Linked DNA regions of Homo sapiens. The protein of the gene in region 1 interacts with the protein of each later gene in a biochemical or structural test. Each region holds a gene or a part of one and is shown in the gene's direction. Other genes may lie near its edges. The genes, in order: CLINT1, AP2B1, CLTC and AP1G1.

Region 1 (7,027 bases):
TAAATTGTTAGTAGAACTTGGAGTTTCTAAGTGAATTATTTTCTCTTTCAAGGGTGCTTACATTTTAATATGGTAATAGAAGAATGTAATTTTAAAGACTTCACCTTATTATTCTCTTTTGATATTTAGCATAATGAGACATGGTATTGTAGTGGTTGGTCACTTTTTAGGCTAGACAAAATGTATTTCCAAGTTGTAAATGAACATGGAATGCAAAGGGATGGTGTTAATTAACTTGGAAGGTACATACTTACTATTTGCTTTCAGATGACGGTTTTTATGTAGCTCTTTCTTCACATTTTGCTTTTTCAACTTCCATTTATGCGTATTTATCTGTTCCTTTCAATATAAAAATTGATCAGAGGTTAATTGATAAGACTGTAGTGATTAAGAGTATGGATTTTATGCATTCAACCTTAAACTTGCAAAGTATGATAGGGTTTTGCTTGTTTCTGGCTTGGTTGTGTTTTTTAATATTACATGAGTTTTCCTCCTCTCTTTGATTGTAAATAAATGGTCCCAGTTGAAGCAGGCAATGTGCTAAGGTTATAGCCCTTGTATTGTCAGTGGAAGTATGGCCAAATAAGTGAGAAATTCTTCATTTTTTTTTAGACGGAGTCTCGCTCTGTCACCCAGGCTGGAGTGCAGTGGCACAATCTCAGCTCACTGCAACCTCCGCCTCCCGGGTTCAAGCGATTCTTGTGCCTGAGCCTCCCAAGTAGCTGGGACTACAGGTGTGTGTCACAACACCCAGCTAATTTTTTTGTATTTTTAGTAGAGATGAGGTTTCACCGTGCTAGACAGGATGGTCTCAATCTCCTGACCTTGTGATCCACCTGTCTCGGCCTCCCAAAGTCCTGGGATTACAGGCGTGAGCCACCATGCCTGGCCATTTTTTTTTATGGTAAATTCAATGTGTCACCTACAGAGCTGCCAAGAGATGGATTTTACGTTATATTTGGGAGGTTTGTTTTTTCTTTGCCACCTTGTTAACTCTCGTGTAATATTTATGAGAAAGAATACTGTCCAGATGGAGATGGTACCTGCAGATGTTAATCTGGGGGACTCAGATCAGCTCTAATTTGTTTCAGTTCATAGATTGTTACATTTGTTCTGTGCATTCCATGAAGTTTCTTACCCTTAGAGTTATTTCTGTCTTAGTAACAGCAACAAGTGGGAATGGAGACTTTGGTGACTGGAGTGCCTTCAACCAAGCCCCATCAGGCCCTGTTGCTTCCAGTGGCGAGTTCTTTGGCAGTGCCTCACAGCCAGCGGTAGAACTTGTTAGTGGCTCACAATCAGCTCTAGGCCCACCTCCTGCTGCCTCAAATTCTTCAGACCTGTTTGATCTTATGGGCTCGTCCCAGGCAACCATGACATCTTCCCAGAGTATGAATTTCTCTATGATGAGCACTAACACTGTGGGACTTGGTTTGCCTATGTCAAGATCACAGGTAAGTTGTCTGGTTCCCTTGGAATTTGTTATTTATAATCTTTGAGATGCTCTAACTCATTGAATGATAGATTAGTATAAAACAGAAAAATAAGCAAGTCCTTTTTATGTGTATGAATATGTGTCTGTGTGTGTATATATACGCATTTGCACATTTCATTTACCTCATACTCTCCCCTAGCATAGTCATTTGCATTCTGGAAGGCAAGACCTTCTCCCCCATCTTGTAGTCACTGTAAAGCCAAGCATGGTGCCTTTGCACAGAGGAGGAACATGGCAAAAATTTATTGTTACAACAAATTGGTACTTGATAGTTTTTTTAAATTGTCTTTAAGAAAAAGAAATAGGCCAGGCGCAGTGGCTCACCCCTGTAATCCCAGCACTTTCGGAGGCTGAGGTGGGTGGATCACTTGGTCAGGAGATCAAGACCATCCTGGCTAACACGGTGAAACCCAGTCTCTACTAAAAATACAAAAAATTAGCCAGGCATGGTGGCAGGCACCTGTAGTCCCTGCTACTTGGGAGGCTGAGTCAGGAGAATGGCGTGAACCCAGGAGGTGGAGCTTGCAGTGAGCTGAGATCGCGCCACTGCACTCCAGCCTGGGCGACAGAGTGATACTCCGTCTCAAAAAAAAGGAAAAGAAAAAGAAATAGAGATATTGTTTCACTTACGGCAAGTATCCACTTAGTAAAATTTCTGGTCATGTCCCTAAAGAAATATCACTCATTGGTTGTAAATAATTATTGCTAATATGGAAAATCATTCTCTCGAATGGTGAATGTTCTTCCCAATTCTGGACCTGCTCTACATTATATAAATGTTTTATAGGCTCATCTTTCAACTTTCATTTTCATAAAGAAAAACAACCAAAATGGGAGCTTCTTAATTCACTATTTTATAGTTAAATCCGAATTACCTAGTACTAGCTTAGAATTCAGACAAGTGCAGGCTTGGAAAATATGTGTCTGAATGGTACCAGGAACTTGCTATTTTTGACTCAAACTATTGAGAATATGTGTTTATGATGCTAATTACTCATTTTAATGTGTAGATTCTCGTCTTTGGGGTATTAGGATGAAGGAAAAGAAGAAAGAAGCAGAAAGGTGACTGCTCTATGTAACAGAAATAAGACCTAATGTATGAGTTAAGCATAAAGTCAGTCTACTTTATTTGCAGTCTTAATTGTAACTGTCATAATTCTTTGCATTGGTACATTTTTAATTATTCTTCCTCTTCCTGTTCCTTTTTTCTGTCCTTTTCAGTTATCCTCAATAACCACTAGGAACCTCTGCTTCTTTCTCCTGAATTTCTTCTTTCTCCTACATTGTTCCATATATTAATCAGTTCAGTTAGTGTTGCTCACTTTAGATAGTAAAAGTATACACAGAACAGCAAAATGTCAGGATATGTGAAATATAAATTGCTTTTTGACAGTTTTGCCTTATATCCTTGTATAATGTGAGACATCATATCCTGAATTCTCTGTTTTGTTTTGTTGTTTTGAAACAGAGTCTCGCTCTGTCGCCCAGGCTGGAGTGCAGTGGCACGATCTCTGCTCACTGCAGCCTCCACCTCCTTGGTTCAAAGTGATTCTCCTGCCTTAGCCTCCCAAGTAGCTGGGACTACAGGCATGTGCCACCATGCCTGGCTGATTTTGTATTTTTAGTAGAGATGGGGTTTCATCCTGTTGGCCAGTCTGGTCTTGAACTTCTGACCTCAGGTGATCTGCCCACCTCAGCCTCCCAAAGTGCTGGGATTACAGGCATAAGTCACTGCGCCTGGCCTCTGAATTCTGTTTTGAAAGAATAAATGTCCACTTGTGTATCTCCTTAAAGCTGTACTAACCTAAAATCGGTAGTTCCCCTGGGCATTTGCCAGGGATGGTGGCTTCTAGACTTTGAGTGATGGGAGAATAATTGTTAGTGTAGGTAAGTTGTTGGTTTTATCCACCTCAAACCTGATTGGGACTTCAGAGGAACCTCTTTGGGAAGCTAATGATTCAGGGTATTGAAGACATTAGCATAGAACATTAGTGGTTCTTTTTGTTTCAGAAGTTCATTGTTGTGATTAAATTGCCATCTGATAATTTTTATAGAACAGATGCTTAATTTTTAGAGCATTTTTCTATTTTCCAGCCTTTGCAAAATGTTAGCACAGTGCTGCAGAAGCCTAATCCTCTCTATAATCAGAATACAGATATGGTCCAGAAATCAGTCAGCAAAACCTTGCCCTCTACTTGGTCTGACCCCAGTGTAAACATCAGCCTAGACAACTTACTACCTGGTATGCAGCCTTCCAAACCCCAGCAGCCATCACTGAATACAATGATTCAGCAACAGAGTAAGTTACCTTAAGACGTCCCACTTCTTTGTGTACTTGCAGTCTTTTGCCTTAATGCCAGGACTACTTCAAACTATAAATAAAAATATATCACATAAATTGTAACAGTTAACCAAATGCCTGTTCACTTAAGATATTTTCACATAATATTTACTGGGTATTCCTCCTGGCACATTGAATTACTTTATATTCTATTCTTGTCCTGATAACATTTATTGTATTGTGGAGAGTTTTAAGGACCTGATCACTAAAATAAAAATTTGCTATACAGATTTTTTTTTAAATATAGGCAAATACGATGGACAAACAAAAATCATCTGATTCTGCCGTTGAGGGGTAATTGCCATTAATACATATTTCTTTCTATGTTTTCTTTTTTTTTTTTTTTTTTTTTCTGAGATGGAGTCTTGCTCTGTCGCCCAGGCTAGAGTGCAGTGGTGCAATCTCAGCTCACTGCAGCCTCCACCTCCCAGTTTTAAGCAATTCCTTGCCTCAGCCTTCCGAGTAGCTGGGACTACAGGCGTGCACCGCCACACCTGGCTAATTTTTATATTTTTAGTAGAGACAGGGTTTCACCCTGTTGTCCAGTCTGGTCTTGAACTCCTGACCTCAAGTGATCCACTCGCCTTGGCCTCCCAAAGTGCTGGGATTACAGGCGTGGGGCACCGCGCCTGGCCACTTTCCATCTTTTCTAAGCATATTTTTAATACTTGGGATCATTCTCTCTATACTGTTTCTTATTCAACATTAAGTTATCATTTTCCCTGTGTTGAATAATATTCTTAGGAAAATGATTGTTAGCTCTTGATAGTTATATTAGTGTATGATTTCCCTTGCTAATTATTTCAATTGTTTCCAGCTATTTGTTATTATAAATCAAGATTTTGTATAAATCTTCATACTTCTGTTTTTTTCTTAATAGAATGTTCTAAAAATAAGTCAAAGGATATAAACTTTTTAAAGATTTTTGTATAAATCTTCATACTTCTGATTTTTTTAATAGAATGTTCTAAAAATAGAATAAGTCAAAGGATGTAAACCTTTGAAAGATTTTTTATACACACTAGCTCTTGACAACTTGTTAAGTAGGATTTAACAATAGGTTTTGTAGGAATGTTTTTAAGTTGGCTGTTTTTCCCCAGTCTACTCTTACTGTTTCTACATCTCTGGGGAACCAGAGCCAATAGTCACTGAATATATGTCTCAAGAGGAACCAGTGCAGAGTAATTGATTTCTAATAAAATCACTGTAAAGGAATTTTATTGGGGCTAAAGAAGTATAGATAGATGGTCAAGAAGTTATTAGTTCTCTGTTCTATGAACCTAAAAATTTATTGTGGTAAAGTTCTTCTGTCTGTTTTCGTCTGGTAGATATGCAGCAGCCTATGAATGTGATGACTCAAAGTTTTGGAGCTGTGAACCTCAGTTCTCCATCGAACATGCTTCCTGTCCGGCCCCAAACTAATGCTTTGATAGGGGGACCCATGCCTATGAGCATGCCCAATGTGATGACTGGCACCATGGGAATGGCCCCTCTTGGAAATACTCCGATGATGAACCAGAGCATGATGGGCATGAACATGAACATAGGGATGTCCGCTGCTGGGATGGGCTTGACAGGCACAATGGGAATGGGCATGCCCAACATAGCCATGACTTCTGGAACTGTGCAACCCAAGCAAGATGCCTTTGCAAATTTCGCCAATTTTAGCAAATAAGAGATTGTAAAAGAAGCAGATTGAATGAAGAATTTTTAGCTGTGCAGATAGGTGATGTTGGGATGGAAAATGCTAATCAACTACCCTTTCTTTTATCAAGTAATTAAAATAAATCTACATAAAGAACCAAAAAGGCTGTTTTATAAAAGTGAAATATCCAGTATTTCAGAGGGCCAGGCAAGAGCACTTCAGATGAGGCAGTCAAAATCATTTTTTTCCAGTGAGGATAGACCACAAGTGGGTGGTGAGACCATTGAAAGCCTTTATCAACTGAAGAGTCCATTTAACAGCATAATTTGTGGGAAGACTGGAATAGGGCTGAATAAATGTGTTTGAATCTCTAATTTTATACTTTCTTTTCCTGAGGAACTTGATTTTTCTGTCCCTGGATCGCCTTGTCATAATTGGGTCTGTTCCTTTTACTACCACTCTTGAGTCCATATATGAAATCATTAAAGTTGGATGATCAGTTTTTTATAAAAATATATATTTTTGTCCAAGAAAAAAAAAAGCATACATATGTGATTATGGCTAAATCAAAGGTAACTGGAATGTATATACTTTTGCTAATGTTCCAGCAACACTGCTATTATACTATCCAAATTTTTATTGTAACAAAACCTCTTTAAGCAATTGGTGATTGCCATGGGACTTTTCCCATGTCTTCTGCTGTAATTATCCTGTGCAGAACTAGGAAGAAATTTTTTTCAGGACTGCTCTATGGTTTCCTTTAAAAGAAAAAAACTTCTGTTTGTTTTTAGCAGTCATTATTTACAATTTGCAGTGATTAACTTGGCAAGGCTTCCTTCCGTGTTTATCCCTGTAGCCATCATTTAAGTCAGGAACAGTCAGAAAAATATTTATTTTATTTTTTTTTTGGGTGTCTGCAAAGGTAAAAATCCATTAAAACCTTAAGTTAAATATAAATGTTACAACTCAATGTTTGCTTTTAGATTTTATACAGTATTTGTTTTGTTTTGGTTTTGAGTGTATATAATGCAGCATTAGCAATATGGTTCCAATAGAGGAGTTAAATATATATTGTTAAAGGAGACCTGTAGCAGTCAAAGATTTTATTGATTTAATGACAAAGGAAATTAATGAAAATGTTTTTGTTTTTCTGCTGTAATTCTGCATTAAGCTCACATGAAAATCATGATTCTAGAGTTTGGAATGCAAAATTAATTGTTTTACCCTCAAGCTGGGAATATTTTTCAAAATAAATACTATAATATAGATATCAAATTATTACCTCCCCATGTTATGTTGAAAATTTTTTTATTAAATTGATAAAACTTTATTTCCATTATATTCATAATGTTCTGTTATACATAACATTAAAATGTTCATTAAAATCAATGTTGAACTGCTTTTTCTTTCGTTCTGTTAGACATTTGAGACCATTTGGGGAAAAAATAATTATAGTTTGGGCAAAGTAATTTTTATAAATAATTTAAAATTATTTAATGACTTCTCTATTCTTTCCTATCAGACTCTACTGTTAGGAATTAAAAAT
Region 2 (7,027 bases), on another chromosome or scaffold:
TATATGAGGTGAGAACTCATTATATGAGAGATACACTGAATCATATATATATGTGATTTTTTTTTGAGGTGAAATTCACGTACCATAAAATTAACCAGGTTAAGGCATACAGTTCAGTGGCATTTAGTACACTGACAGTGTTGTGCAACAATCATGTCTTCTGATTTGTTTTTATTTACACTATTTTCATTTTTCTTGGAGTTTCTTTTGGCTTAAGGCAAGAACCAGCTTGGCACCATGTTTCTCTGCCAATATGGTTAGGGAATATTTTGTTACTATTGTTTACAATATGGTTACTAGAGTGATATCCCTTCTCTTTAGAGCAGCAGGGACTCTTAATTTAGAATCTATCTTATAGGCTTCTAAAGATACTTGACCCTCCTCTCTTCCCTGAAATTTTGTGGGTGGGTGCATTATTTTCTAGTTAAGACAAGAACACTTAATGCTCACAGTGAACAGGATAGTAATATATTCCTTGACATTGAAATTGTTAGGGGAGATAATGAAATATGTGAGCTACTGATAAAGGTATGACTTAAGACTTAGGTTAATTTATTGTTTAATAGAATGTAGTGAAAATGCCTGTTAAGAATTTACTCATGCCTGTAATCCCAGCACTTTGGGAGGCCGAGGTGGATGGATAACTTGATGTCAGGAGTTCCAGACCAGCCTGGCTAACAAGGAAAAACCCTGTCTCTACTAAAATACAAAAATTAGCTGGGCGTGGTAGTGGGTGCCTGTAGTCCCAGCTACTCTGAAGGCTAAGGCAGGAGAATCACTTGAACCTGGGAGGCAAAGGTTGGAGTGAGCCCAAATTGAACCACTGCACTGGAGCCTGGGCCACAGTGAGATTTTGTCTCAAAAAAAAAAAAAAAAAAAAAAGAATTTAATGGGCTGGGCACGGTGATCCCAACATGTAGTCCCAGCTACTCGGGAGGCTGAGGCAGGAGGATTGCTTGAGCCCAGAAGGCAGATGTTGCAGTGAGTCCCAGCTGGGACTACAGGCATGTGCTACCATGCCCGGCTAATTTTTGTATTTTTATTAGAGACGGAGTTTCGCCACGTTCCCCAGACTGGTCTCGATCTCCTGAGCTCAAGCCATCCGCACGCCTCGTCCTCCCAAAGTGTTGGGATTACAGGCGTGAGCCACCGTGCCTGGCCAAAAAAAATTTAATATGTGTATGTATAAGAGGCTTTTCAGAGAAATTGGGTGACAAATTCTAAGGAGGTTTTGTTTTAAAATCTTAAACAAGTTTTAAAGGACATAGCATAGCATAGTAAATATCCTAGACAGATTGTAATGGATTTGAGCTATAGTCCTTCTTTGAGGCTCAAGTAATCGTTTCTGTTTACTGGTTTTTCTGTTTGTATATATACATTCATAAATAACTTCAGATTTATTCCAGGTCTTTTATGTGAAGAATTCCTTTCTTCATTTGCCCACTTCACATTTAGTTTACATTATGAATGGACTAAATGATTATAACATTCTTTGAATTTTTGCTAGAAACACATTGTAAAAACATTGCATAAGGCAAGCTTCAGTATAATTTTTAATTATAACAAGTATTAAAGGAGAAATTTCTATATTCTGTAATGATATTTGTGAGTCCTAGCTCACTTCTTTTAACAAGATCATTCTGTGAATTTCTGGTACAATCTAAAGAGCTATTAGGATCAAGACTATAAATAGTAATTAGCTGGTTGGAAAGATAGCAAATGAGTCTAATTTCCATTAAACTGTACAAGTAGCACGTTTTAGAGATCAGATTTGAACCAGAAGTTTTTCATTATTTTATGTTTATCTGGCTCTTTTTTCTTTTCTTTAATTACATTGATTTGTTTGGTGCTTAGGTCTTTTCTCCTAGATCCATATTTACTATTGTTTGCCAAATACATTATGTCATATTGACCTGATAATAATGAGCAGGTGCCAGCATGTCTTGTCCTGAAGTTGGTGATAAGTATTATTAGTGATGGTGATAAGGAAAAAGATACTCATTTTGAGTACAGAAGGAATATTATTAAAAAATATATGTATATTTATATATTTTTTTCCCCTTGAGACAAGGTCTCTGTCGCTGAGGCTGGAGTGCAGTGGTGAGATCATAGCTCCCTGTAGCCTTGATCTCCTAAGCTCAAGCGATCCACACACCTCAGCCTCCCAAGTAGCTGAGACTACAGGTACATGCCACCATGCCTGAGCCACCGCGCCTGGCCCAAATTCCTATTTATTTATTTATTTATTTGAGATGGACTTTTGCTCTGTTGCCCAGGCTGGAGTGCAGTGGCGTGATCTCGGCTTACTGCAGCTTCCGCCTCCCAGGTCCAAGCGATTCTCCTGCCTCAGCCTCCCAAGTAGCTGGGATTAAAGGCACGTGCCACCATGCCCAGCTAAATTTTGTATTTTTAGCAGAGACAGGATTTCACCATGTTGGCGAGGCTGGTCTTGAACTCCTGACCTCAAGTGATCCACCCGGCAGCCTCACAAAGTGCTGGGATTACAGGCGTGAGCTACTGTGCCTGGCCCCAAAATTTTAATATATTTAAAGAAGTCTGGTACATTGGACAAAGTCTTATAGTTTCTCAAATCAGAAAAAGTAGTCTTATTATTTAGTAAAAATGTGACCAGACTGTGCCGTTTTTGTTAGTAGAGCCATTTGTCATCTGGATTACTTCTTCTGGAAATTGGGATGGAAGAGTTAAGGTTGAGGTTGAGATCCACGTTCTTTTGTTTCAACACCAGTTTGATTCTCGTGTCTGAACGGATGTCTCAGTCTTTTGCCTTGTTTTTAACTATAAACTGGCATTATTTGGGAATACTCTTGGGCTAAATCTGGATTGTTGGAAGTAAGAAAGCCACATTTTTTTTTAAATCCAAAAATATAGTTAGATACAATGAATAAGATCTAGTATTTGATAGCACAAAAGGGTGACTGCGGTCAACAATAATTTACTGTACATTTAAAAATAACTAAAAGAATGTAATTGAATTGTTTATAATACAAAGAAAGGATAAATGCTTGAGGTGATGGATATCCCATTTACACTAATGTAATTATTATGCATTGTCTGCCTGTTATCAAAATATCTCATGTACCTATACGCACCTACTAAATACCCACAAAACTAAAAATTAAAAAAATTCCATGCATAAGTCATGGTTGCCTCTCTAGATGTTTGTTGTGAAAGAATATTGTCCTACTAATTTTGAATTTTTTTTTTCTGAAAGAGATTCTTTTTATTGAAAGTTTCATGTCATAGATCGGCAAAATTGTTTTTTCTTTTGACCTTACACTGCTTCAGAATATATGTTTTGGAGTGATTCCAGCTTGAGGCAAGGAAGTTACCAGATTTTCCTGAATGGAAAGTAATTGCAGATATATTTATAAAAAGGTCCAGCTTTAGCTCTTGAAAGCTTTGAGGAGTTACTGTGGATAAAATCACAAAGCCATAATAGGTTCATACTTTTACCCAGTTGCATTTGGCCTTTAGATTTTTGCCCCATTAGCTTGAGGAGTTACATTCTTAGTTTTTCTTGAACCATCAACGGTGGTGATAAAGGAAGATGATACTCATTTTTAGAAATTCTTAAATATAAGTGTTCCTAAAATTAATTGGATGTTCTTAAAATTAATTGGATGCCTTGTTGGATATCTATAACCTGAATGAAGGAATTCTTTTCTCTTGCTATAGGTGCACATTAAAGATCCAAAGTCATGACTGACTCCAAGTATTTCACAACCAATAAAAAAGGTAAGTATGAGAATACAATCAAATCTTTTGAAATTTTCAAAAGTTGTAGTGTAAGATTGCCCCAGGCAGAATGCTGCTGACCTCTTCCTTCAGACATACATGTAGCTGACAATCTCACTGGACATCTACTACTTCTATAGATGAATGTATTCAAGCAAGTTATTAAAGAGTAGGTTTTAAAAGAGAGGGCTGTGATGCACATTATTATGACTTGAAGGTTCTGTTTAGTGAAAGAGACTCCTCTTTGCTGTTTGAGATGATCCATTGGAGATTGGTTAAGTGTGAGGAGGACAAAAGAAGCAGCATACTTTTTCCCTTTTATTAAATAATTTTTACTTGGAAATAAACATTTTATAACAAAGAATACAATTAAAGCAATACAGATATGTATGTAAAAGGTAAAAATGAAAGTTCTCCCTTCCTGTTCCTATTCCCAAGGGAACTTGGTGTATATCCTCAAGTCTTTTTCTCTGCATATGAGTGCATATATTAATACATATGATTTAAAATTTTTTTATCTTTAATGAAAAAGCAATCTTGCAAAACAATGAATAGAAATGAGTTATTTTCATATCCGTCCATATACATCTACCATGTTCTTCGTCTAGATGTATATTTAAAACGGAATCTCTAGAGCCATCTATGGTTTTTAGGTCATAGACGGAATTACTTGAGGGACTTTGCACTTATTACTCTCATCATCTTTGTTATCAGTAATATAATGCTTGTTTTTACCTATGAGTTTGGGTCTAGGAACAAAGGATTCTTCTGGGGAAAGTCCAACCCTTCATCTTTTGTAAAATTGTTCCTAAATAAAATAGATCATTTCTAGAAATGTGGAGGGTCTTCCCATCAAAGACAAACATTTTAGCCCATCTCAGCTTATTGTGCCTGTAGCTTAGCTTGCTTTATTTGTTGCTTAGGATCAGAATTCTGTGCTTTTGTGTTCAGGAGTCCTTACATTTACCAAAGTATTCCAGACATGGCGCCAACTACCATTCTTCTTTTTCTCTTGTTGCAGTGAGTTGCTTAATTATGTCAGTTTGTTGTCTGTAGCTTTCAGTCTTGGCAACACATCAGAATTGCTCAGCCAGGGAACTTTGAAATAATACTGATGCCTGGGTCTCAACCTCAGCCTGATTTCAGTTGTCCTGGATATGGTCTGGGTGTGAGGATTTTAAAGGTTCTCCAGGTGGCCAGGCATGGTGGCTTATGCCTGTAATCCCAGCACATTGGGAGGCTGAGACAGGAGGATTGTTTGAGTGCAGGAGTTTGAGACCAGCCTGGGCAACATGGTAAGACCCTATCTCTATGAAAAAAAATTTAAAAATTAGCCCTGTACGGTGGTGCACACCTGTAGTCCCAGCTATTTGGGAGGCTGAGGTGGGAGGATCACTTGAGTGCAGGAGGTTGAGGCTGCAGTGAGTCGTGATTGTGCCGCTGTACCCCAGCCTAGGCAACAGAGAGAGACCCTGTCTCAAAAGAAAAAAATTAAAAAGAAAGCTCCCCAGATTATTTTAATGTGCAGCCATGATTGAGAACTACTGCTAGCTGCTAACAGTGCTTGGTAGATTTGATTGGGGGGAGGAGGAGGGAGAAAATATAGGAATTTAATAAAGTTGTAGAATATATGACTTTGCCTCTTTTAGTACCCCTCTTTGGTCCTGCCCAACTTTTTCCTCCTTATTTTTATTACTTACACCTCACAAAAGCCATTAGCCACTTGTCATTCAGTCTCAGCTTTTTCTGATTTTCTTTTGGAAATATGTTTATTTCTTCTTCTGTTAGCATTTTGTGTGCTTTGACGAACAAAATGTCTATAATTATATAAAGGGATACAATTACAATTAAATAGTTATAATTTTAAAACTCTCCTAATTCTTCAAACCTACTCTTGAAAAGTGTCCTGGTGACCTTTTTTTAATTCAGGCATTTGTAAAAGTTTGAGACTGCAGATTGAATCACTGCTAATAAACATCATACTTAAAAAAAATTGATAGATTGTGTTCCCTGTACTTCCTGCAACACCCACCAGAACTGCCACTGAAACATATTCTTTAAATTTATGCTTTTGGAATTGGAATAATTTCTGTTACATCCTGCTTTGATTCTATAACACCTGCTGCTGTTCACAATTCAGACTTTCTGAAACCCCGCCGTTTGTCCTTCACTGTTCCCGGAAGTGAATGAGAGGAACTCTAAGAGCTGGATTTGGCAGGATGGGACATGGTGAAGAGTCCTATGAAGAATGACTCTTTAAAGGGCCCAGCTTTTCTTGCTATGCTACTTTTGTAGCTGTTGATTAAATAGAAATTTTGGAACAATTTTTTTGCCTTATTGGCCATGGATATTGAAACGAAAAAGTGCTCTACTTCTGTGTCTTACTAATTTCATCCTTTCCACATAATGGTTTCAGGCAAATCACGTAGTGTTTGTCCCCACTATTTCTTTCTTTTTTTTTTTTTTGGAGGAGGGGAGGTCAGGTTTTAATGTCCCAGTCCTCGGGCGCCGTCATCCCGCGCCTGCCAGGCCCGGCGGCCATGTCGCTCACTCGGGTGGCGGCCAGCCTGCCTCATCAGGGCCTTCCGCGGAGGCCGCCCCGTCGCCCTCGAGCACCAGCTTCACGTCCAGCTCCAGCTGCCCGGTGTAGAAGCCCACGGCGGCGCACACCCAGAGCGGGCTGGTGGCGAGTACAGCGCCCGCAGCTGCGCCCCCTAGCGTCAGCTGCATGGGCCCCCGCAGCGCTGCCAGGCCCCGCAGGCGCTGCCCCACACCGCACACAGGCCGCCCAGCAGGAAGAAGCCATATGCTGCTTCGTGATCCATGTCACTCTGCATGAAGGAGATAACCCCGATGCCCTATGCCAGGAGGCCATTGTGGAACCAGGAGAAGAAAGCTGTCTCGTGCGCCTTTCGGAGAGGAGCCTGGCGCCTGCACGGTCCAGCTCGGACACAGGTGGCGGCGAAGCCCCGTTGTGGGGGCCGTGGCCGGGGGCGAAGGACCCCTGGGCGCCCCCGCTCCGGGGCCACTGAGGCAGCAGTAGCGACCTCCGGAAGCGGAGACTGTCCCCACTGTTTCTATGCTGGTAAATGAGATCTGGTTGAAAGGAACGACAGGAACAGTCTTGAAGGTGGAGGAAAGTCTTTTGAGGCAGTATGGTAGATGAGCTGGAGGATGTAGATGGAAAGTTGAGATGGGAGTAGTCAACCTCTTTTTCATGGACTTAGTGTTTTTTTTCCGTTTCTTTTAAACAATATTAGGGTTGTTACTT
Region 3 (7,027 bases), on another chromosome or scaffold:
TTGGACCTACAGCAAATGAATGTGAATATATGAAGATTTCTCTTTTCCTAGACTGTTTAGACTGATAGCAGTTAATAAATGAGTGCCTATTTGAGCAAGATACTGTTGGAATTGAAGATTCTATAAAAATCCTAGGCTACATATATAAAATATTGCCTGTGATTCTTAATTTTTTGGTGATTTTCAATTTTCTGGCACATTAAGTATCTTTAGGCCACTTGACACATTCCATTGTATTCCTAGATTCTTTGGGTCTTCAATTAAAAATCTCCCTACCCTGTTCTTTCCCCTTTGATCCATAGATGCAGGCATGGAATGTGTTGTTGAGTCAAATGTTAGGGGTTCTTGCTATAGTTAGTTCGGATTGTGAATAGAAAGCAATGCTAAGTACTGGGATTTACTACATGCTTAGTTGTACTCTCTGGAAGAGGTAGACTTCCTGGAATTATGCGGCAGTCTCCTGGGAATAGCTTCTAAGTTTAAAATGTATCATATTCTTCAGAATTTTCTTGATGGTCAGTTTACCCAGCTTAAAGTGTGTGGTTAATTTTAGTGAAAGTGCTTTCACTCTGATTAGGAAATAAGACACAGAATGGTGTGTATGTAGAACACAATCATTTTCATTTGAGTATTTAGGAAAATTCACATTTCAGGAACCATGGTAGTTGCTCTTGAACAATTGTTTCTGACCATAATTGGAATTTGTACCTTGCTTTTAAAAGATTCCATTTATATCGAATCCTCAGCTTCTTTGCAAAATTGTTTTTTCCATACATATGTTTATATGTTATTCAAATTATATTTAACAAGGTGTTTTCCCTGTCATTGTTACCGTTGTGGCTTTTTCTCTTTGAGTTATTGTCCAGTAGAACTTTCTTCAATGATGGAACTGTCTACCAGCTACATAGGGATATTGAGCACTTGAAATGTGGCTGATGTGACTGAAAAACTAAATTTTTGCTTTAATTTCTTTTTAATTTAAATGTAAATAGCCACATGTGACAATTGACTCCTACATTGGACTGCACAATTATAGGCCATGCTGATGTGTTTTGTAAGTTTGAAGATTTATCTCACCACTCATGTTTATGTATTTAGAATATTTCGTTAGCTAAAATTAAAACACTCATTGTTCAAAAGTTTTAACTGAATACTGTCTGTCTTGGAAAGTGGTGGTGATGAACAATGACTAGCAGCAGACTTCTTGAGACCTTATTATGTGCTGTAAATTTGGCTAGGTACTTTCAGATCTTCACTCAATCCCCCCAGACACCTTTCTAAAAAGTGAGACTCATAAAGTAGTGGGAATGCTGTCCGAATGGGATGTGTACCTGAGTCTTCTGACACAAAATATTTCAAAGAAATTGGATAATTGACCTTAAAAAAAGAAGTTATACAGTATCCTAGAGTGCTTTTTGTCTGTTGGACTTAGGCCCAGAGAGGTGAGTTCTCTCTACTTGTTTATAGATTAACAATGTGGTATAGTAGACAGAACAGGGAGGGCTTTAGGGGTTGTTGAAACAAATGCTGTCCAATAGAAAAATAATATGAGCCACATACTTTTTTTTTTTTTTTTTTTTTTTTTGAGACAGAGTCTCACTCTGTCCTCTGTCACCTAGACTAGTGTGCAGTGGTGCGATCTCGGCTCACAGCAACCTCCACCTGCCAGGTTCAAGTGATTCTCCTGCCTCAGCCTCCCAAGTAGCTGGGATTTTAGGTGTCTGCCACCATGCCTGGCTAATTTTTCCATTTTTAGTAGAGATGGGGTTTTACCATGTTGGCCAGGCTGGTCTTCAACTCCTGACTTCAAATGATCTGCCCACCTCGACCTCCCAAAGTGCTGGGATTATAGGCATGAGCTGCTGCTCCTGGCCTCATATAAATAATTTTTTAAGTTTTCTAGCAGCCATATTAAAAGTGAAAAAACATAAAATTAATTAATTTTGGGTTTTTTTGGTAGAGACAGAGTCTTGCTATATTGCTCAGGCTGGTCTCAAATTATTGGGCTCAAGTGATCTGCTCGCCTTGGCCTCCCAAAGTGCTGGGATTACAGGCGTGAGTCACCATGCCATGCCCAGATAAAATTAAATTTAATATATTTTATTTAACTTGGGATATGCAAAATATTATTTCAATATGTAATCAGTATAAAATTTACTAATGAGATACCTTACATTCTTTTTCATACTAAATTTTCTAAATCTAGTGTGTGTGGTTTTTTTTTCTTTTTTTTTGAGACAAAGTCTCACTCTGTCGCCAGGCTGGAGTGCAATGGTGGATCTCGGCTCATTGCAACCTCCGCCTTCCAGGTTCAAGTGATTCTTCTGCCTCTGCCTCCCGAGTCGCTGGGACTACAGGCGCGTGCTACCACGCCCAGCTATTTTTTTTTTATTTTTATTTTTTGGTATTTTTAGTAAAGATGGGGTTTCACCATGTTGGTCAGGATGGTCTCAATCTCTTGACCTCGTGAAATGCCTGCCTCGGCCTCCCGAAGTGTTAGGATTACAGGTGTGAGCCACCGTGCCCGGCTATGTATATTTTGTACTTAGAGCATATATCAATTCAGACCCTATTTTCTTTGGAAATCCTGGTCCGTATTTAGAGTTCATAAAATTTACAGTTAGAAAGGCAGATTTGGGGCTGGGGGTAGTGGCTCATGCCTGTAAACTCAGCACTTTGTGAGCCAAGGTAGGAGCATTGTTTGAGCCCAGGAATTCAAGACCAGCCTGGGTAACAGAGTTAAGACCTCGTCTCTATATTAAACAAACAAAAATGAAGAAAAAGGAAAGCAGATATGCAATACTTCAGTGATCCCAAACATACTTAAGTTTTCCAGTAATTGAATCACTTACTGGTTATTATTTAATTTTAATTACTTTAAAATTACGGTAACCACATTTCAAGTGCTCATTATGGTATGTAGGTTGTGACTTGTGGTTACCATATTGGACAACACAGGTTAAGTCTAACCTCTTGCTTTTTTTTCTCTGGGAAATGGGCATACTTATCTCACAAAGTTATTATGAGGATCTGAGATCATGTATGTGAAAGTACTTTACGTAGCATTTTAGGAGCATTAATTATTGGCTAAATAATTTTTGTCCAGTACATTTTATTCAGGTATCTCAACCAATGACACAATATTCATTTACAGATCCAGTGTTTTATGGTGTATAAGTATTTGGGGTTAACACATTTACCTAAGATTTGAGTACTTACTGCAGATGAGGAACTGTGTTAGACTCTAGGGACAAGGTGGTAAACAAGATGGACTACACCTTGCATTCATGCTTCCATTGATGAGTTGGCAAAGGCTGTACACTTGTTATTCCAACCATTGATGTTGTCTACTTGATTGTGGATCTTTTATGTGTTCGAACATTTGATATTGTGCACAGTTTAATACAAATATTGATATGATACAAAGTTGATTACACTCTGAAACTGCCCCCCAAAAAGAAACTTTTAAATAAATCTTTTATTATGTTCCACGAGTCTCATTGTGTGCCACTGGTACATTTTAAATTAGGGTTCCTTGAACAGACATATTTGAAAAAAAAACTTAATGAATCATATCGGATAAAATACCCATATGGAATGCCGGTCAGGCGATTGTTAGAGTTATTGTATGTGTTGTATGTGTCCTTTTTTAGGGTGGTAGTGTTGAAGTGAATCTTCTCACTTAGATGAGCAGTAGGTTCATGGCTGATATTTTAGTCCTGTATATTAGAATGAGGCTGTTTCTCTAAGTTCATGCACTATATGCCATGCCAAAACTACTTCATGAAATAAACCTGTCTTCTGAGCCACAGCAAAGTTTACAGCTCTGGGTGTCTTGTCTTTGCTTCTTGGTTAAGTGCCTATGGCTAATGCTCTTAACTCAAAAGATGGCTGAAAGCTTGGACCTAAATGTGTTATGCAAAACCCATCTGTCAGACTTTTGTGAGTCTCTTCTTTTGTATTATCTCCTTAAATTAAGACATAATTTAAGATATTTTTGTCCTACTTTTTTTGGGGGGTGGGGACAGGGTCTCACTCTGTTGCCCAGGCTGGAGTGCAGTGGCATGATCAAGGCTCACTGCAGCCTTGACCTCCCTGGGCTTAGGTAATCCTCCCACCTCTGCTCCCTAAATAGCTGGGACTACAGGCGTGCGCCACCAAACCCGGCTAATTTTTGTATTTTTTTTGTAGAGTCGGGGTTTTGCCATGTTTCCCAGGATGGTCTCAAAATCCCGGGCTCAAGCAGTCCACCTGCCACAGCCTCCCAAAGTGCTGAAATTACAAGTGTGAGACACCAAGCCTTGTCCTATTTTTGAGGCAGTAACTATTCAAATCTTAATTGTCCTGTAATCTAATCCATAAAATCAAAATACATGGGCCATTATAGTTGTTTGAGCACCTATTACGTGCCAAGAACTGTATTAAATATTTAATGTTTATTATCTCATTTAATTAGCAAGAGAACCCTTGTGCTTAGGTCAGATTAGCCTTATTGTAGAGATTGGGCAACTGAAGTTCATAGTAGGTAACTTTTAGAGTCACACAGCTAGTGAGCAGTCAGACTTTTAATATTTATTCTTTCATTTGGCTCATTGCCTCATTTGGTAAATGGTCTGTATCATTTGAATTGCAAAATGTACCACAATTGTTTATATCTATGCTGTGATGTTCTTTGATTCTAGTAGTACTGTCGTTTGTTTATCGTGAAATATTTTTTATATTATGAGAAAAGTAGGAGACAGCAAACTAACATCTGACTTTATGCCTTGAATGATTATTTAGCTGTATCTTTTTTAAGGACTTTATCCTGTTTCCTATTGGAAAATTGTGCAGGATGATTGGGATCCGGTTAACTTGTAACCAGGATTGTCTGCATCCCTCTCATAAGACTGAACTTGTCACACTTTTCTATAGACTTTTTCTTACTGAAAAGAATGAGTGTGTTCCAGTCTGAAGCCACTTGTGAAAGGAGGAAACTTCTGCTTTCTATTTTACTGTAAATTCATGTTTTTGTGTTTATGCCAAGAAATAGAAGCTTGAACTCAACGAAGGCAGTTGTGCATGAAAGGGATAGGAAATGAAGGTGACAATGGAATATATTTGCTCATTTTGAGTAGCATCATGGTAGAAAGGAAAATGGTTACAGACTTGTAGGGTTGTGCTTTGGAGGCAGACTGCCAGTACTGTTAATACTTCTTGTTCCTAATCCTTAGGTAAATAAGGATTTTCTTCAAGTTCTGAAGTAAGACGGTTTTAAAGATTATTGCTGAAAGAATAGGAACCAGATCCATTAAAGCCATATTTTGTCACATTAAAAAACTCTGCAGTGTGCTATTCTGGAAAATGTCTCAGATGTTTAATCTGGGCTTATCTATTGATTATGTCAGGTTTTCAACTTGTCTCAACTTCCTCATTTATTAAAACAATATTTCCTGGCAATTTTAAAGTTAGACTACAGTATGTTTTTGTATTTGTAGTATAATATTTAGCCCCTTAACCCCTTACAGGCACTCGAATATTAGTTCTTCCCCTCCACCCTGGAAGAGTTTCCCTTTGTCCACTTGAGTTGAATATATGTGCCGTACTAAAGGAGAAAAACTACCATCTACCCAGTTATTGAAGCCAAGATCTTGAAGTTACACCAGACTCTCTAATTTCTCATTTTCTGCATCCGTCGATTTCTGGAGTTCCTCAGTGATGCACACTGGGGGTCTCAGGGATGACAGTTTTTCATGACCCTAGGTTGAAACTGGGAGTCATAGAAGACGAAAAAACGAGAATTGGATTGGGAGTTGACTCTGTTGCCCAGGCTGGAGTACGGTGGTGCAATCTTGGTTCACTGCAACTTCCGCCTCCCAGGTTCAAGCAATTCTCCTGCCTCAGCCTCCTGAGTAGCTGGGACTACAGGGGCCCGCCACCAGGCCTGGCGAATTTTTTTTGTATTTTTAGTAGAGATGGGGTTTCACCATGTTGGCCAGGCTGGTCTCAAACTCCTGACCTCAAATAATCTACCCTCCTCAGCTTCCCAAAGTGCTGGGATTACAGGCGTGAGCCATCGTGCCTGGCCAACTTGCATTTATTTCTGATTAGCTGCTCATCTGAGAAAGGTGGCTTAAAAAAAACCACCAAAGTGGACAGACTGAAGCTAAAGACTGTCAGTATATATGCTCTGCTTGGCAAACAGCTGACTTTGGATAGATCTCATTATTTAAAGATGAATAATAAGGGGGAAAAACGTGTAGAGAGAACATGGTTTACAAAAACCCATCTCTTTCTCCAGTCTCTGCAATATTCTATATTTGGTCATATTGAACTATGAAAATCTAAGGCAGGTTTCTTTATTTTACCACAGATATCCTCAGGAAAGAGTCTCCTTATTAAAAGCCTTACTGAATCTCCATAGTATTGTGTCCTCTCACAGTTGCTTCTGTTCTGAGCACCAGAATGCTGTTTGGCAAAGGCTGCTGTAGGCTTGAAATCAACTGGATTAGTGAGAGACAAATTTTACACATCTAAAATTCTCCTGTGTATGGCCTCACAGTTGGAACTGTTGGATGTTATAAGCAGATGATTTAAATATCCCGTGAAAAGCAGTCCATTCGGGCATGTTTCTAGAGATCATAATTTTTTTTTTTTTTTTTTTTGAGATGGAGTCTTGCTCTGTCGCCCAGGCTGGAGTACAGTGGCATGATCTTGGCTCACTGCAACTTCTGCCTCCCGGGTTCAAGCGGTTCTTCTGCCTAAGCCTCCCAAGTAGCTGGGATTACAGGTGCCCGCCACCATGCCTGGCTGATTTTTGTAATTTTAGTACAGATGGGATTTCACCATGTTGTCCAGGTTGGTGTTGAACTCCTGACCTTGTGATCCGCCTGCTTTGGCCTCCCAAAGTGCTGGGATTACAGGCATGAGCCACCACACCCAGCCTAGAGATCATAATTTACATAGAAAGATAAGAGAAAAACAACTCTCCTGATAACGCAAATAGATTTGATGTTACAAAACTGCACCATTATGATTGCTCTGTAAT
Region 4 (6,991 bases), on another chromosome or scaffold:
GAGTTCGAGACCAGCCTGGCCAACATGGAGAAACCCTGTCTCTACTAAAATATACAAAATTAGCTGGGCGTGGTGGCGCATGCCTGTAATCCCAGCTACTCAGGAGGCTGAGGCAGGAGAATTGCTTGAACCCGGGAGGTGGAGGCTGCAGTGAGCCGAGATTGTGCCATTGCACTCCAGCCTGGGCAACAAGAGTGAAACTCCGTGAAAGAAAGAAAGAAAGAAAGAGGGGCGGGGAGGGGGGAGGAAGGGAGGAAGGAAGGAAGGAAGAAAGATAGGGTCTCACTATGTTACCTGGGCTGTTCTCAAACTCCTTGGATCAAGTGATCCTCCCACCTTGGCCCCCCGAAGTGCTAGGATTACAGGTGTGAGCCACTGTGCCCAGCTGGGGCAACTGCTTTTAATTTTAGTTGCATGGAAGAAGGGTTTGGTAATTATAAATAAAGATAAATGGCCTGGGCGCGGTGGCTCACGTCTGTAATCCCAGCACTTTGGGAGGCTGAGGCGGGCAGATCATAAGGTCAAGAGATCAAGACCAGCCTGGCCAACATGATGAAACCCCGTCTGTACTAAAAATACAAAAATTAGCCGGATGTAGTGGCACGTGCCTGTAGTCCCAGCTACTCGGGAGGCTGAGGCAGGAGAACCACTTGAACTCGGGAGGTGGAGGTTGCAGCAAGCTGAGATCATGCCACTGCACTCCGGCCTGGCGACAGAGACTCTGTCTCAAAAACAAAAACAAAATAAAGAGAAATGTAAGTTAAAAAGTACTGAGAAAGGGTTTAGTTTTTAATGTTTAAAACTCTTTAACGCTCTGCACTCGATATGGTAGGAAAAAAGATCTTTCCGGGGCCGGGAGCGGTGGCTCACGCCTGTAATCCCAGTACTTTGGGAGGCCAAGGCGGGCGGATCACGAGGTCAGGAGATCAAGACCATCCTGGCTAACATGTGAAACCTCGTCTCTACTAAAAACACAAAAAACTAGCCAGGTGTGGTGGCGGGCGCCTGTAGTCCCAGCTGCTCTGGAGGCTGAGGCAGCAGAATGGCGTGAACTCAGGAGGCGGAGTTTGCAGTGAGTTGAGATCGTGCCACTGCACTCCAGCCTGGGGACAGAGTGAGACTCCGTCTCAAAAAAAAAAAAAGCTCTCTCCTCCTTAGGTAGCTGGCTTAATTTTTCTTTTGTGGTTCACAATGATACACATTTAAATTTGACCTCTAAGCATTTTTTTGTGGTGTTCCAAACGGAATACTTTAGCTAACTCTGCTTTGCAACCTGCAAACTTCTTACTTATGTGGAAACCCCAAACTAAGTTTGGCCTGTGTTCCCTGCATAGCTATACCTCAGAGGAAATTGTGTTTTGGCTTCATTCCACTATTTACTAGCCTTGTAGTCCATGGTTGCACTGTACAGTAGCAGCATGGCAGAGGATCTGAATTCTGTAAACATTCTGTTCTCTAAACCACTTGTTGGGGGTTGACTCCATCCACCCTGAGAGTGTAGGTATGTGTGTAGGTAGGTAGGTAGGTAGGTGGGTGGGTAGGTAGGGGTGGTGGAAGATTGTGGTACCCTATGCTAATTTATAAAATGGCACTCTGGCCTGGCATGGTGGCTCATGCCTGTAATCCCAGCACTTTGGGAGGCCGAGGTGGGTGAATCACCTGAGGTCAGGAGTTCGAGACCAGCTTGGGTAACATGGTGAAACCCCGTTTCTACTAAAAATACAAAAAATTAGCTGGGCGTGGTGGCATGCGCCTGTAGTCCCAGCTACTTGGGAGACTGAGGCAGGACAATCACTTGAACCTGGGAGGCGGAGGCTGCAGTGAGCCAAGATCACGCCATTGCACTCCAGCTCGGGCAACAAGAGTGAAACTCTGTCTCAAAAAAAAAGGCACTCTATAGCTCTGTAGCAGAACCCCAGTGGAGGAGGGGAGAGGATGTGTCTTTTAGCCAAGTTAGTTTCTTGGAGCCTCTTTTTCCTTATTTGTAAAACTAAGTTACTTATGCTTGCCTAGCCTGACTCAGGAGGTTGTCCAGAGGGTCAGATTAGATTATACACATGAAAGTGCCTTATGAACAATGTGATATCAATATTTAATAATACAAATGATAATTATTATCGCACCCATGGCCTCCTTTCTTTCCAGCCACTTGGCATGCCCCAGTAGTTCAGGGACAAAATTGTACAGATGGGCCTACTTGGTTCAATTTTTTTTTGTTTTTGTGAGACAGGGTCTCACTCTGTCGCCCAGACTCGGCTATCTGCAACCTCTGCCTCCCAGGTTCAAGCGATTCTCCTGTCTCAGCCTTCCGAGTAGCTGGGATTACAGGTGCCCACCACCATGCCCGGCTAATTTTGTATTTTTAGTGGAGATGGAGTTTCACCATGTTGGCCAGTCTGGTCTCGAACTCCTGACCTCAGGTGATCCGCCCACCCCGGCCTCCTAAAGTACTGGGATTACATGCGTCAGCCACTGTGCCCGGCCTACTTAGAGCAATTTTTGTTAAGTGTTTTGAAATCCCTGCATGAAAATGACTAAGGAAAAAAGTGCAACCTTCTCTCTATGACACCCAAATCCTAAACTCAAGATTTGTGGTTAGTTCTGGCCAGGCCGGTGGCTCACACCTGTCATCTCCACACTTTGGGAGGCCGACGCAGGCAGATCACCTGAGGTCAGGAGTTCAAGACCAGCCTGGCCAACATGGCGAAACCCTCTCTCTACTAAAAATGCAAATATTAGACGGCCGTGGTGGCGGGAGCCTGTAATCCCAGCTACTTGCGAGGCTGAAGCACGAGAAATTGCTTGACCCCGGGAGGCAAGGTTGTAGTGAGCCGGGATCCCGCCACTGCACTCCAGCCTGGGCAACAGAGCGAGACTTTGTCTCAAAAAAAAAAAAAAAATTTTTTTTGTGTGGTTGGTTCTGTTCTCTTTGGCACCCAGCCTGCTGCTGTGTTGTATTGTACTTTGTTGCCAATCTAGCAGAAGGATTTTAGTCTAGGTAGGTCACCTTTCCTTTAAACAGGCCAAGATATCAGGCCCTCTTTACATTCACATGGAAAAGACTCACGTCATATGTTAGTAATTATTTATCAGGTTAGGAACTGTCTGGTTAGACTTTCTTTGGCCCTGGTTATTAATTCATGGAGTCATAGACCGAAAGCCCATTCTGTAAGGGTTTCAGCTAACATGAGTCCAAGTCTTCTTTCTACATATGAGGAAATTGAATCCCTGGAGAGTTTAAGTGACTTGAGCAGTGCAAGCACCGCGGTACCGGGCGTGGAATCCATTCTTTTCAGTCATCCTCTTAACTCTTCATAAAATATGTTGCAAAGACACCATAAAACCATAGAATACCACCTGGAGCATGCTCCTTAAGTTATAAAGAAAGCAAAAATCTTAAAGGAGACAGCAAAGAGTTCGGGATTCCCGTGGACGAAGACCTTTTCAGCCCTGCTGTCTTCTCCGCCCCCACCTGTCTCGCTTGCTCTCACTTCCTGGGCTACCTGACTTAGCTCCGCCCCCTCCAGGTGGCTCCACCGCTTCCTGGTAGCCCAGCTCCACCCCCCCTACCCCCCCACCCCCCTACCCCCCACCCCCCTACCCCCTCACCAAGCGGAACCAATGTCCGTCCGCTACGGGGTAGGCCGGATCTTTCTCGCTCAGACTCATCGCAGCGGTGACTCGGCAGCAGCGTCTCGCGTCATCAGTGACAGCCCCGATCCTTGCTACGTTTGCGTCGCTCTGCCAGGAGCAGTCGCCTCCTCCTTGGCAAATAGTCCTCGGCAGGGTCCGAGTTCTTGGATAATTCGAGAGAAAAGGCACGATAAGTTGCAGTACGAGGACACGGAAACGACCAGGAGAGGAGGACAGGGAGCGAAGTTTCCTCAATAGTGTGTGAAGTTAGTTAAAAACTCCCTCCTTCCTCAGGATCCCTCCGCCTGCGGTAGCGGTGGTGAGGCCGAGGGAGCCGCCATTTTGGATGTTCGGTTCCTGCTGCCACTGCTGCCGCCGCCCCCGGAGCTGCTGGTTTCATTCGAGGTTTCGGGCCGGTGAGTGTCACTCCCGGCGCTGAGAGCATATTGCTGCTTTTGCCCCGCCGCTGCCGCGGGCGCTCGACCGGAAGCTTCCTTTCAGTTTCAGGGGTCCAGTCCCAGGCTGTGGGTGTTGAGAAGAGAAGACAGAGAAGCTGGGCCAGGAGAGGCCGGGAGCCCCAGGGGCTGCTCCGACTTCTGGAGGGCCGACCCCGAGGCCTCGGACCGGGAGGTTCCGCGCGCCGCGGCGTTCCGTGTTGTGGCGTTGCCCCGCCGGTACGGGCCTCCTTGAACCCTTGACTTTCTCAGGCTGCGATCTTTGAGGGCTCATTCAGGGAGCCTGGGGTTTAGCGGGGCGGGCCCCACCCCCGCGTGTCTTCTCTGAGCCACGTATCAGCGTTCTTGTGTCTTGTACCCGTGTCAGGTCTGTCAGATAACTCCCAGCATATCCAAATGCCCAGTTAATCGCTGCCTGCCCCTGCAGTGCCGTCCTCTCGGAACCGGACATCGGCCTCGCCTCTCTCTAACCTTCCGACCAACTTCTTTCCCAATTTTTCGTGTGTGTGTGTATATGTTGTTGTTTTGTTTTTTTCAACCTACCTGCGAGTATACTGTTTACCCTTTTCTCAGCTCCTGGCCCTGCGGACGTCAGCGTCTAATAATTCTCCCGGTCTTCCTGATTGCCTGAAAGAGTCGGGACGGTTCGGTTGATTGTGTTTCCCGGTTAGGACTCGGTGTAGGAGATCCATCGAACCACTCGCTCAGGGTAATGTTTATGAAGCAGATTATGTTTATGAAGCAGATTAAATGGCTTTTGGGAGGCAAGAGCTGTCAAATGTTTTCTCATATGTGGATTCCCTCCCTGTGCTGAATACTTAGCTTTTTGGTGCTTACTGACACTTGTGTGGTATTTTTTTTTCTCCCCTATTATATATCCCTGAGCACGGAAATCTGTCCATGGAGAAAAATATTAATCTGAGGTAGGTAGAAAGGAGAGTTGGGCTGCTTTACAGTGATTAGTTAACAGAAGGGAGGAGTTAGTGCTTTCTTAGTGACCTTAACTTTGAAGTGTTTGTACAGTAATGATCTTTGCTGACTGATTCTAAAAAATACTTGTAATGATTTCATGTATTGGGTTTTTCTGGGGATAGCTGAATTTTAAATATTCACTTCCACCGTTCCCTAGAATACTTGTCAAATACCTAACTTGTCACACACCCTAACTTTCACGTTTGAAAAATATGAACCCTCTAAGTACTCGTAATCTCGTCACTTTTATTCTAAAGGCATGTTTGCAGTCTAGCATGCTTGAATAAAAAGTATGTCTTTATTTTTATTTATTTATTTTTTGAGACGAAGTCTCCCTCTGTCTCCAGGCTGGAGTGCAGTGGCACGGTCTCGGCTCACTGCAACCTACGCCTCCCGGGTTCAAGCAGTTCTCCTGCCTCAGCCTCCCAAGTAGCTGGGACTACAGGCACACGCCGCCACGCCCGGCTAATTTTTTGTTGTTGTATTTTAGTAGAGATGGGGTTTCATCATGTTGCCCAGGCAGATCTCGAACTCCTGAGCTCAGGTAATCCGCCCGCCTCGGCCTCCCAAAGTGCTAGGATTACAGGCGTGAGCCACCGTGCCTGGCAAAAAGTATTTCACAGTTATTCACTGATACATTTCCTACGTTTCAAGTTAGGCGAGTGTGATTGAATCACCCTTATTTCATCTCAGCCTGGGTTTTCACATCTGCAAAAGAGAAATTAACTTATTTGAGATCACAGTCTAGTGGTTGAAGTTTAAATTTATAACTTGAATTGAGTCAAGCTTTTTAATATTGCTAAGCCACTTATAGATGCATTATTATTATCAGGTTATTGAAATGAGATTGTAGATAAATTCCTCTATAGGTCATATGATGTCTCAGAAGAAAACAATATTTTCAGTTTAAATACTCAGTGATCTTGTTATTTAAGCAGATTTTTCAAAAATATATTAGTTACTATTAGATACGTGAGTTCTGTATTACCCTGAAGCAATGGAATTTTCTCTTTTGGTTTAAAGGAACTGTCAAACACTGAACACCTATGTAATGCTCACTCATTTAGTAAGTATGCCCTCGCAGTTACTACTGAAATGTTCCATTTCTGACTTAGACTTTTCAAGTAAGGTGTTAGAAGAGCTATCACATAGATGTTAGTTAACTCAGTGTTTTTCATGCTTTAATATATTGGTATTTAAATGTCATTCAGGCGGGCGCTCAGTGGCTCATGCTTGTAATCCCAACACTTTGGGAGGTGGAAGGTGGATCCCTTGAGCCCAGGAGTTGGAGGCCAGCCTGGGCAACCTAATGAGACTCCGTCTCTACCAAAATATTTAAAAATATTAAACTTTTAAAAATTCATTCTTAGATAGTTTGCATTCACTGTAGAAAGGGTCCTTTTGCCTTAACAAATTCCTAGCAAAGTGTTGTTTAGTGCACCATTGATCAGTGCATATTTGAATGTCTGCTTTGCGTTTAGGAAACCTCCGTTTTCTTTTGGGGGCAGTTGCTTGTTCTTTGGTCTGACCTCTGTCATTGATAGCAGTTCTAGATTTGAGGGCAGATTTTAGAGTGAAACTTTAAAGTACAGAATTTGCCAGGAATGCCTTGGTGATATTTCACCCCAGTGTTTATTTAAAAAAGGAGTTTTAAAAATCAGTGGTATGCAAACAAAACCAACTTCTTTATGATTTATAAAAACTCTTTTTTTTTTTTTTTATTATTTTTATTGTTTGAGACAGGGTCTCACTCTGTTGCCCAGGCTGGAGTGCAGTGGTCTCAGCTCACTGCAGCCTGGACCTCCTGGACTCAAGCGATCCTCCTGCCTCAGCCCTCCACGTAGCTGGGACTACAGGCGTGTGCTACCACGCAGGGCTAATTTTTGTATTTTTTGTATAGATAGTGTTTTGTCATGTTGCCCAGGCTGGGC

The links.
Region 2: the proteins of CLINT1 (region 1) and AP2B1 form a complex in vitro, tested with the Homo sapiens proteins (2 studies listed by BioGRID and IntAct, with this or other methods).
Region 3: the proteins of CLINT1 (region 1) and CLTC form a complex in vitro, tested with the Homo sapiens proteins (2 studies listed by BioGRID).
Region 4: the proteins of CLINT1 (region 1) and AP1G1 form a complex in vitro, tested with the Homo sapiens proteins (2 studies listed by BioGRID).

What each region holds. Positions count from the first base shown.
Region 1 is NC_000005.10:157,786,130-157,793,156, reverse strand, and holds part of CLINT1 (clathrin interactor 1), read left to right. Parts: intron 1-1,161; coding exon 1,162-1,454; intron 1,455-2,505; coding exon of another isoform or gene 2,506-2,532; exon of another isoform or gene 2,533-2,557; intron 2,558-2,716; exon of another isoform or gene 2,717-3,589; coding exon of another isoform or gene 3,590-3,643; coding exon 3,644-3,794; intron 3,795-5,138; coding exon of another isoform or gene 5,139-5,164; coding exon 5,165-5,511; 3' UTR 5,512-7,027. UniProt on the Homo sapiens protein: Binds to membranes enriched in phosphatidylinositol 4,5-bisphosphate (PtdIns(4,5)P2). May have a role in transport via clathrin-coated vesicles from the trans-Golgi network to endosomes. Stimulates clathrin assembly.
Region 2 is NC_000017.11:35,590,312-35,597,338, forward strand, and holds part of AP2B1 (AP-2 complex subunit beta), read left to right. Parts: intron 1-3,696; 5' UTR 3,697-3,719; coding exon 3,720-3,756; intron 3,757-6,221; exon of another isoform or gene 6,222-6,819; intron 6,820-7,027. UniProt on the Homo sapiens protein: Component of the adaptor protein complex 2 (AP-2). Adaptor protein complexes function in protein transport via transport vesicles in different membrane traffic pathways.
Region 3 is NC_000017.11:59,622,895-59,629,921, forward strand, and holds part of CLTC (clathrin heavy chain 1), read left to right. Parts: intron 1-7,027. UniProt on the Homo sapiens protein: Clathrin is the major protein of the polyhedral coat of coated pits and vesicles. Two different adapter protein complexes link the clathrin lattice either to the plasma membrane or to the trans-Golgi network.
Region 4 is NC_000016.10:71,805,821-71,812,811, reverse strand, and holds the start of AP1G1 (AP-1 complex subunit gamma-1), read left to right. Parts: upstream 1-3,977; 5' UTR 3,978-4,049; intron 4,050-6,991. UniProt on the Homo sapiens protein: Subunit of clathrin-associated adaptor protein complex 1 that plays a role in protein sorting in the late-Golgi/trans-Golgi network (TGN) and/or endosomes.